Linked DNA regions of Homo sapiens: region 1 is linked to region 2. The links come from fine-mapping of genetic effects on gene expression. A gene starts in region 2. The other region holds a variant in brackets. All regions are shown on one strand. Distances are between the middles of the regions. Region 1 overlaps TCF3 (transcription factor 3). Region 2 holds the start of MEX3D (mex-3 RNA binding family member D).

Evidence for each region. PIP is the estimated chance that this variant, and not a neighbour inherited with it, causes the effect.
Region 1: its variant is fine-mapped to the expression of MEX3D in blood mononuclear cells (TOPMed, PIP 0.94).

Annotation. Positions count from the first base shown.
Region 1 is chr19:1,613,562-1,618,561 of GRCh38, forward strand. It overlaps TCF3 (transcription factor 3), which reads right to left. Exons shown (of 19, transcript NM_003200.5): 17 at 2,125-2,260; 18 at 1,724-1,959. It also overlaps the pseudogene RNU6-1223P. Among named protein-coding and RNA genes, the nearest start is that of UQCR11, 11 kb to the left of the region's middle. The variant C/T (reference allele first, on the strand shown) is at 2,292.
Region 2 is chr19:1,565,345-1,570,845 of GRCh38, forward strand. It overlaps MEX3D (mex-3 RNA binding family member D), which reads right to left and starts at 2,981. Exons shown (of 2, transcript NM_203304.4): 1 at 2,120-2,981. The coding sequence starts at 2,714. It also overlaps the pseudogene RN7SL477P. RefSeq lists silencers at 2,981-3,170, 3,211-3,260.

The sequences.
Region 1 (5,000 bases), 48 kb after region 2:
GCTAGGCCTGGCCAGACTCACTGTGGACAGAGGAGGCCTTGAAGACACGGGCTCAGCAGGCAAATACCTGGGCCACTCCAAAAACCCGGGACTGGGGAGTCCAGGACTCAAATCAGGGCTCACATGGAGCAAACCAGCTCCCATCCCCCGAGACCCCCACACCCTGGGGAGGAGCCTCAGAAATGCACCCGTCCCCTACAGTGAACTCCGGCTGCCCCAAGATGAGCCCTCCCTGAGCTCCTGCCCCTGGCTGGGAAGGCCAGCTCCCTAGGCCTCCAGGAACCCCATTGTCACTGCCACCGTGAATGGTCGCAGTAGGAGCTCTGAGGTTCCAAGAGCCTGTTCTGTGCCAGGCCCAAGGCTGAGCCCCCTCTCCAGCCGAGCAGCATGCAGCTGGCGAGCGGGCACTGTTGCTGCTGCCGCAGGGGTGCGGGTCCCGGCCCAGGCCTCTGTGCTGCATGGCCCTGCATGGGTGACCTCGCTCTGTTCCCTGGCTTCCTACTTGGTAGAATGGATGCCGGTCCCCATCAGGGCACCCACTGCTCTAGGTTGTGGTGAAGATGAAATGGGTGAAGGTCTGGCCCAGTGCCCAGCATGCCTGGTGCCCTGTCTTAGTCTCTAGGGGGCTGCCTCACCCACTTGCCTGCCCACCCTGCCTTAGGGGCCTGAGGGGATCCCTCCAGGTGGTGGGGGCGGCCCCTGGAGCCCAGGACAAGCGCACAGACCAAACTGACAGGACCAGGGGCTGCGTGCTCCCGGGTCTGGTTTCTTCCCGCAAGCCCTGACGGGGGGCTTTGGGGGAGGAAACGCCCTGAGGTTGCAGCCCAGCCGCTCCCGGTGCTCGGGCAGCAAGTGCGAGGTGAGGAGGGGCTGCCACGGGAAGCAGAGGGACGGACGGGCGGGATGGAGGGGAGGGCGGAAGGCAGACAGCAGAGAGGCGGGCTTGGGGGGCGCGAGGCGTGCCACACACGGCTGCAGAGACTCGGAAACCTTAGAGCTGAGGGGATAGCGTGTGGGCCGGGCCGGGGCTCTGGCTCCGGTCCCAGCAACAGTGCTGCAGGAGAGAAAGGGTTAACGGGGTGCAGGCGAGGAAAGGAAGGAGTTAAGGAAGCAGCCGCCAGCGCCAGCGGGGGGAAGGAGTCAGCTCACATCTGCGGGTGGGGACAGGGTCTGTCTGTATCCTTCCTCCCCCTGGCCCTGGGAAATGGGGGTGATAGGAAGTTTCCCTATCACCTTCAGATAGGGAAACTGAGTCAGAGACAGGGGATGGGCTCATGTGGCCTTGCGTGGCATCTGCCTGACGGGAAGGGGCCAGGGTGGTTTGCACACCAGCTCCTGTCTCTGGGATCGGGGGACACTGGCCTCTGTGAGCTGGGTTCTGGGCTTCCCAAGAAAGGAGGACCACGGCGAGTGGGAGCCCCGTGGAGCTGGGAGATACAGTTCTGAGCCACAGAGCCCAGGCCTGAAGGACTAGGGGTCCAGAAAGAGTCCAGTCCTCCCACTGTGGAGGGGATGCTGAGGCAGGCAGGGAGAAGGGCTGGCAGTCAGGAGTGGACAGTCATGGCAATGCGGTCAGAGGGGTGAAGGGCACAGTCACTGCAAGGAGGCAACTGCTGCAGAGGGAGGGCTGGCTCCAGGAAGGCGGGCGGGGAAGGAGAACGAGGGCAGGAACACGAGGGAGGGTGGCGCTGCAGGGACGCTGGTGGCCCGCGCCCCCACTGACCTCGCACTTGCTGCTCCAAGTTCAGGATGACCGAGACAGCCTGGTGCAGGATGAGCAGTTTGGTCTGGGGCTTCTCGCTGTTGAGGTGCAGTTGGCACATGCGCCCCAGCTCCTTAAAGGCCTCGTTGATGTCACGGACCCGCAGCCGCTCCCGGGCGTTATTGGCCACCCGGCGCTCCTTCTCCCGCTCGGCCTTCTGCTCTGGGGGGAGAAGGTCGTCCTCGTCCTCGTCTGGGCTATGGGGAGGGCGCCGGGAGGGGGCCAGAGGGAGACAGTGAGGTTGGGGGAAGAGCGTGGGGCCCGCCGACGGCCTCCCAGTGTGGGTGCGGTGTGCGTGTGGCCTGTGCACATGTGCGTCCTGATGGGGTGAGGGTGGGGAGTGCCGAGGGGTGGGTTGGCACCTGGTCCGGGCCCGGGGGGCCTTCAGCTCCTTCTTCTCCTCCTCCGAGTGGTCAGCCGCTGACGTGTTCTCCTCGTCCTCCTTCTCCTCCCGCTTGATCTCGCTGGCGGCCGCCGTGGCACCTGCTCGCCCTAGCCCTGCAACAGGCCTAGGGTCAGGGGCCTGCGT[C/T]GGCCTCCAGGGCCAACTGACATATCTCTTTGTGCTCCTGTGGTGAGGGACTTGGGCTTTCCTGGAAAAACCAGGTCTTGGCCAAAAATAAAAACAAAAAACCAACAACCAGAACTGGATCCCTACCTCACGCCATGTGTAGCTACCAATGCCAGACAGATTAAGGACCACAAGATGAAAGGGAAACAGTTTTACCACCTTTGGAACAAAGTGTGTAGAAATTCTGCAGCAACTCAATGGCAGGAATCTACTAAGATGCTAAAAGAACACTCTTCTTTTTTGGTGAAAGTAAACTGTTTCAATCATTAACTTAAAAATATGGAACACTTCGGATGGGCACAGTGGCTCACACCAGCTCACACCTGTAATGCCAGCATTTTGGGAGGCCGAGGTGGGTGGATCACGAGGTCAGGAGATCAAGACCATCCTGGCTAACATGGTGAAACCCCATCTCTACTAAAAATACAAAAAATTAGCCAGCTGTGGTGGTGGGTACCTGTAATCCCAGCTACTTGGGAGGCTGAGGCAGGAGAATCACTTGAACCCAGGAGGCGGAGGTTGCAGTGAGCCAAGATTGCGCCACTGTACTCCAGCCTGGGTGACAAAGCAAGACTCCGTCTCAAAAAAAAAAAAAAGAATAAAACTTTGGAACACTTCAGGAATGTCCACGTCACCCTTGTGCAGATGCTATGCTAATCTTTATCATTCTCATTTTAGTCCAAGAGCTGTCCAAGCAAGTGCTCAAAGCGCTGCTTTTGAAAGAACACAGGCCGGGCACAGTGGCTGACTCACGCCTGTGATCCCAGCACTTTGGGAGGCTGAGGTGGAAGGGTCACTTGAGGCCAGGGGGTCATGGCTACCGTGAGCTGTGATCATGCCCCTGCACTCTGGTGTGACAGGGTGAGACCCTGTCTCAAAACAAAACAAGTAAAAAAGAAAAAACAAAAATCAGTAAGCTGGACTATATCAGAATTGAGAGTTCCTGATCAGCAAAGATACCAGGAAAAGAAAAGCATTTGCCAAAGAATAGAAGACACCCACCACAGATGTAGCCAACCAGGAGGTGATCTCCCACAATCAATGGGAAAGGACAAAAAGAAAGTAACTCAGTAGAAAAATAAGCAAGGTATCCAAAAAGGCATCTCACAGACAAGGAAACCACATGGCTAGAAACACGTGGAAGTCCGCTTCAGCACATCAAGAGATTAAGGAAATGCAAATTAGGGTGGCTTTGCGCTACCCTTTCATACCCAGTCAGCTAGCAAAGTTGAGGGACCTGAACAGTCAAAATCTTGCCTGTGGGAGGGCAACTTGGCTGCTTTGGAAAATAATTCATCAGCCTTTCCTCTGAATTGACAACAGGTGTATCACACCCTTGATCAGCAGGTTGGCAGGAAAGCGTGATGTTGGAATGACCTACAGCCCCACGCCCGGGCCAGGGCCAACGGCACACTCACAATGGGACCCCAGCCGCTCACACCACACATGTACCCCACACACAACATAAGCCAGCAAACCAGCGTGTAAAGAACACGCTAGTGGGACGCCGTGTTCATGAAGCTCAAGAACAATAATTGCAAAACATGTGGCTTAAGGGTACACAGTGCCCCAAATGAATGCGGCCACTCTGCATTCAGCAGGGCCTGGGCCACCCCCAAAACCCGGGCTTGGGGAGTCCAGGAATCAGTCAGGGCTCACATGGAGCAAACCAGCTGCCATCCCCTGAGACCCCCGTACCCTGAGGGGGAGCCTCAGAAATGCACCCGCTCCCCACAGTGAACTCTGCTCCAATCGGCCAACGCCAGCCACCAGGACCAGCCCAGGCCTCAGCACACGAAGTGAAGGACAGGAAGGAAACAGAGGGGAGCCTATGGGTGAAAGACTAAGCTTGGGGCTGCCCCTGGAAACTGCTGACCTGTGGGTCCGGACCCTTCTCTGGGGTGGGGCCGTCCTGGGCACTGCAGGGTGCTGAGCAGCATCCCTGGCCCCCACCCACTCCATGCCAGGAGCTCCCCTCAGCCCTGACAACTGTAGATGTCCCCAGACATCACCCAGTGTCCCCTGGGGGCAGAGCCGCTGCGGTGAGATGCCCTGGCCTAGGAGTGATAGAATCAAGGTACTTGGAAAGTCTGCCTGGAAAGCAGGCAGGATTCCTGGGCTGGTGGAAGGCACAGGGCCAGGACAGCGCCCACAATGACCCCACCTTCTCCTGGGCCTCTCATGGGTGTCTGAGACACTCAACAATCCCCAGGCCCAGGTCCAGATTTGTCCCCAACCTTTTCCTTTGTCCCCTTCCTTACGGAGTTCCCAGCCCCAGTGTCACCCACAGCTCGGGCCAGAAATCCCAGAGCCACCCTGCCTTCTCTCACCCTCAAGTCCTGTCCATCACAAATCCTGTGGGCCCCGCCTTCAGGAGATGCAGGGCCCACCCACTGCTCACCCCTCCAAGGCCCCTGGACCAGCCCTGTGGCCTCTGCCTTGGTCTCCCGGTGCCACTCATAGTCTGTCCTCCAAGCAGCCACCAGAGGGTATCTGTGAGCACCTGGGTCAGGTCCCATCCCTCCTCAGCCCTCCACGGCTGCCACCTTTCTCATGGCCAAATCCCAAGTCCTCCCCGCAGCCCACAAGGCCCCGCATGACCTGCCCTGCCCCGCCCTCCCCCCTTCCCTCTCTCCCTCTCCTCACTCTGCTCCAACCCCACGGGTCTCC
Region 2 (5,501 bases):
CAGCCTGGACAACATGGTGAAACCCCGTCTCTACTAAAAATACAAAAATCAGCTGAGCGTGGTGGCTCACACTTGTAATCCCAGCTACTCAGGAGGCTGAGGCAGGAGAACTGCTTGAAACCAGAAGGCGGAGTTTGCAGTGAGCCCAGATCACGTCACTGCACTCCAGCCTGGGCGACAGAGCGAAACTCCGTCTCATAAATAAATAAATAAAACCAGCATCTTGCCCCAGAATCCTCTACCCTAATGGAGGTGAGACGTCCGCACATCACAGAGAGGGGCCGTCATCTGCGCAGGGCCACGGCGGCCTGCAGGACAAGCAATCAGGGCCCACTCTACCCCCGACCCCCACTGTACCCCAGGGCCTGCCTTGCTGACGGCCACCAGCAAGAGCCCAGTAAGTGGGTGCAGAACGCACAGGCCAGAGGTGGGGGCTGAGCCTGGTGCCCACAGACTCCATTTCCCATGGACCTGCCCCTAGAGAATTCCCACCCTGAGGCCACAGGTCTAGAAGCTCTCAGCCTGACGCTGATTCCTGCCAGCTCCCCATGTGGCCATAGCCTCGCTCAAAGGCCCTTGGGTGCCAGGACAAGCGCGTTCACAAAGAACACAGCCACAGCCTCCACCACCTGGAGGCTCAGGCTCGTGCCTTTGGTCACTTGGTCCCCAGGCCTCGGCTTGGACGCCTGTCTCCACAGGCTCCCAGACACTCCGCACAGGGCAGCTGTCCCGTTCTAGGCCCTGGGTATGGGACATGGAGGCCGGGTGGAAGGCCTCAATGGGGAGGCAGTAACAGGATGGTAGGGCGCCCTCCTGCCAGGGGGTCCCACCAAGGGCAGCCAGCAGGACTGAGACAGAACCCAGTCCCTCCCCACCCACCACTCCAGAGCATGCTTCCTGGGGCCAGCACCATGCCTGACCCTCCGTGGGTCCCCACATGAGCTGGACAAATGAACGACCAAAAGACAGGAGGCTGTGGTGCCCCACCCACCTGGACCGAGGGAAAGGGCGGAGGGGAGGGCGCCCTGGTGGTCCCCCGCCTGAGGCCAGGGCCATAGATGACCTTGCAATCCCAGCCCCCCACACCTTTCTCTGGCCTGGATTCCCGAGGGCCCCGGGGAGGCAGGGACCCCCAGCCCAAGTGTCCTGCGGCCCCACCACCAGCCCCGCCAAGGCCCCACCCCAAGTTCTAGAACCTGGCTGATCACTGGCGGTCAGCGGGGACCCAGGAGCGGGGAGGGGTGGCGGGAAGGCAGGAGAAAGTTGAGGGAGGCAGGCGGGCGGGTGGCTAACGGGGTGGTGGGTGTGAGCTGGGCCAGGCACTGCCCACCACCCGCCCGCCCGCCCCGCAGCTCGGGGGCCAATGAGCAGCGGCCGGCCTGATGTCACCCTGCAAATCTCAGCCTCGCTCTCTAACAAAGAGAACAATGGGGCGGCCAGAGGGAAGCTCCGACGATGCCACCGCTGGACCCCACACCCGGGGCCTGCCGCCCGCCGGCCTGCCCAGCAGGCTGCACCCCAGAAGTGGCTTTGACAGCCGGTCCTTCCCCAGGCCCCGAAATCCCTGACTCGGGGCCAGAGAGTGGAGCAGGGACCCTCTCCTGCCCGGTCCCGTCCCCACCCCAGTCAGGGCCCCAGGCTGGAGACTGAGACGTGCGCTCTTTGTACTGTCAGCCTTCTCTCCCGGTCCTGCAGGCGGCCCCCCTAAGCCACCCCTAAACCTGCGCTTGCCCCGCCCCGCCGCCTGTGCTGGGTGTGGGGCGCCCCCCGCCCGGCCGGAGCCCCGGGCCCTCGAGCCCCTCTCTGGGGTGCCCCTGCGGGCGGCCGAGGGCCTGGGCTGCGGCGCGGCTCCCCGGAGCCTTTCCGGGCTGGAGGCGGCCCAGACAAAGGCGGCGGCGGGGCCGGAGCGCGCAGGGGAGGAGCGCGGGCTGCGCCCAACTTTCTCCCGCGGCGGCTGCAGGACAAAGGCGCAAAGGCAGCGGCCGAGGCCGGAGCCCACGCGGGGCGTGTCCGGTGCGGGGCGTCCGGCGCGGGCTGGGCTGGGCTCGGGCGACCCCCTTCCCCGGGGCGGACGGTGCGGGGACCCCCAGGACAGCAACCCCCGACGAGGGCCACTCACCCTGGCGACCCACGATCTCGGCGACGTGCTCGGAGCTGGGCACCGGGACGCACTCGGTCATGTTGACGCTTTTCTTGCGGCTGCCGATCACGCTCATCTGGTCGGCCAGCAGCGTCGGGGGCCCCAGGGCCGCGGGGTGGGGCGCGAAGCCCGCGAACACGTCGGGGGGCGACGGCCGGGGCGGCGGCGGCGGCGGGGGACTCGCGTTGGGGTCCAGCAGCGGCAGCGACCCGGGGGCCACGGCGGGGGCCAGGGTCGGGGGCGCGCCGGCCTCAGGTCCGTCGGGGGGCACAGGCTCCGGAGCCGCCCCGCCGTCCGCGCCCCCCGCCGCCGCTGCGCCGTCCCCGGCCGCCCCCTCCTCGTCCGTGTCGCCAGCGCCCCCCAGCCCGAGCGCCGACAGCTGGTCCAGCGCCAGGCGGAGCGCGGCGGCCGCGTCGTCGGGTTCGGGCGGCGGCCGGGGCGCGGGCGCGGCCTCCTGGGCGCCCTCGGGCGGGGGCGCAGGTCCGGGTCCGGGGTCCTCCCCCGCCGCCCCCACGCCGCCGCCGCCGCCGCCCCCGCCCCCGCCGCCGTCGGGCTGGCCGAGCGAGCTGGGCATGGCGGGAGCTAGCGCTGGGGCCCGCGCTCCTGCCGCCCGCGCCGCCGCCGCCGCCCGCGCCGCCCTCCGCCTCTGCGAGCTGGGCCGCCGGCCGCCTGCATCCAGCGGCGGGGGCGGGCACGGGGGGCCGGGCGGGCGGGGCGGCGGCGGCGCGGGGCTGCTCGGGGCCGGGCCGGGCCGGGCCGGGCGGCGGCAGCGACTCTGGCTGCGGCTCGGCGGCGGCGGCGACGGCGGCGGCGGCTCCTCGGCGGCCGAGGCGGCGGCGGCGGCGCGGGACGCTCCTTCCCTCCCGCCGCCTCCCGCGGCCCCGCCCCGGCCCCGCCCCCGCGACGTCACGCCGCGGCCCAACAATGGGCGGCCCCCAGGGCGCAGGCGCGCGGGGCGGGGCCGGGGCGGGGCCGGCGCCGGGCACGTGGTCCAGGCCCCGCCTCCGCCCGGCGCTCGGGCGGGAACCCGGGCGCATCCGCACGTGCGGGCGCTGCTGCAGGTGTGTGCGGCTCAGCCCCTGCCTGGACAGCGCTCCCTCCCCAAGCCTGAGAGTCCCTGCCTCGCGCGCCCCAGGGCCCGAGGTCCCGCTCCCCAATTTCCCCTAGAGATCCGGGTCGCCCCCAAGCGAGGTCTCTTGCTCCACGCCCGCTTCCTTGTGCCAGGGACCCCCACCTCCCTGCATAAAGGCGTGGGGTCCTCTCCAAGTCCCCCTCGCGATCCCACTGGACTTCGAAGTCAGGCTCCTGCCCGCCCACCGCCTCTGTGCCAGGGTCCAACCCCCGCCCCACGGTGCACCCCCCAGGGCCTGGGGTCCCAGTCCCCAAGTACCCCTTGCTATCAGGTGGGCTTTAGGGTCAGGCCCCTGCCCCACCCCCAGCCTCTGTGCCAGGGACAGCTCCACAATCATGCACACCCCAGGGCCTGAGGTCCCTCTCCCCTAGTCTCTCCTAGCTCCCCTCTGGCTGGCTCCCGGCTTTGGGATCAGGCCACCTCCTCCACGCCACCTCCTCCGCCCCACCCAAGGCCACAGACCCGGTCTCTGTGCCCCCAGCCAGAGACCTCTCTACCACAGTGGTGCTTCCATGGCGAGGGCAGGCTCACACCAGCCAGAACCCTCCATGTGGAGCCCCACCCTCTTCTGGGGTGCCTTTCCCCGCAACGGGCGTTGTCCACCTCTAAAGCCACCCTTGCCGGGCGCGGTGGCTCATGCCTGTCATCCCAGCAGTTTGGGAGGCCGAGGCGGGTGGATCACGAGGTCAGGAGTTAGAGACCAGCCTGGCCAACATGGTGAAACCCCCGACTCTACTAAAAATACAAAAATTAGCCAGGCGTGGTGGCGCGCACCTGTAATCCCAGCTACTCAGGAAGCTGAGGCAGGATAATTGCTTGAACCCTGGAGGTGGTGGTTGCAGTGAGTCGAGATTGCACCACTGCACTCCAGCCTGGTTGACAGAGCAAGACTCCTCTCAAAAAAAAAAAAAAAAAAAAAAAATAGCCGCTTTCCCAGCGGCTCTTCCTCCAGCTGTCCTTCGGGGCCTTCCTTGCACCTGTGGGGTTTTTTGTGATAAACCTGTCTGGCTGGGTCTACCTGCCCCCCTCTTCTACCAGACCTGTCCCTGGCTGGCTGTGCAAACTTGGACCGAAGGCAGGGCTCTCTGGGCAGGAGTGGGGCAGCCTGCCCCTTTGCCTAGCAAGGCTTCTCCTCTGTCCCCTCCCCCCGCCTCACACACCCTGGGTCCCCCTCAGCCACTCTTCTAGTCCCTCAGCCACAGCCACCCACTGCTGGGCCCTTCACTTTTGGTGGCTTCTCTGCCCACTTCTTCCAGGCAGGCAGGGTCAGGATCCCCCTGCCTGGAGCCCTTCCCCACCCAAAATCTCTCTCCTGACCCCAGGCTGCATCCAGCCCCACTTCCCCTCCTGGGGTCCTGGACTTCTCTTTCGTGCACGCCCATGCTTGGAATTGTTTTTCTATCTCTCTTTCTTTCTCTCTTTCTTTTTTTCTCTTTCTTTCCTTTTTTTCTTTCTTTCTTCCTTTCTTTCTTTTCTTTTTCTTTCTTTCTCTTTCCTTTCTTTCTCTTTTTTCTTTTCCTTTTCTTTCTTTCCTTTTTTTCTTTCTCTTCCTTTTCTTTTTTCTGTCTTTCTTTCCTTCTTTCTTTTCTTTCTTCTCCTTCCTTCCTTGCTTCCTTCCTTTTCTTTCATCCTTTATTTCGTTCTTCATTTCTTCTTTTCTCTCCCTTCCTTCCTTCCTTCCTTCTTTCTTTCTTTTTTTTTTTTTAGACGGAGTCTCGCTCTGTCACCCAGGTTGGAGTGCAGTGGTGCAGTCTTGGCTCACTGCAAGCTCCGCCTCTGGGTTCACGCCATTCTCCTGTCTCAGCCTCCCGAGTGGCTGGGACTACAGGTGCCTGACGCCACACCCAGCTAATTTTTTGTATTTTTTGTAGAGACAGGGTTTCACCGTATCAACCAGGATTCTCCCTTCCTTCTCTGCTCCCCTCCCCTCTCCTCTCCTTTCCTTTTCTTTCTTTTTCGGACAGAGTCTTGCTCTGTTGCCCAGGCTGGGGTGCAGTGGCTATTCACAGGTGTGACCCCAGGACAGATCAGCATGAGAGCTTTGACCAGCTCCGTCTCTGACTTGGGTAGGTTCAGCCCTCCTTAGGCAACCTGGTGGTCCTCCCAGTCCAGGGAGGTCATCATATTAATGTAGACGCTGGATCAGCATAGCTCACTACAGCTCAGAACTCCCGAGCTCAAGCAATCCTCCCGCCTCAGCCTCCTGAGTAGCTGGGACCACAGGTGTGC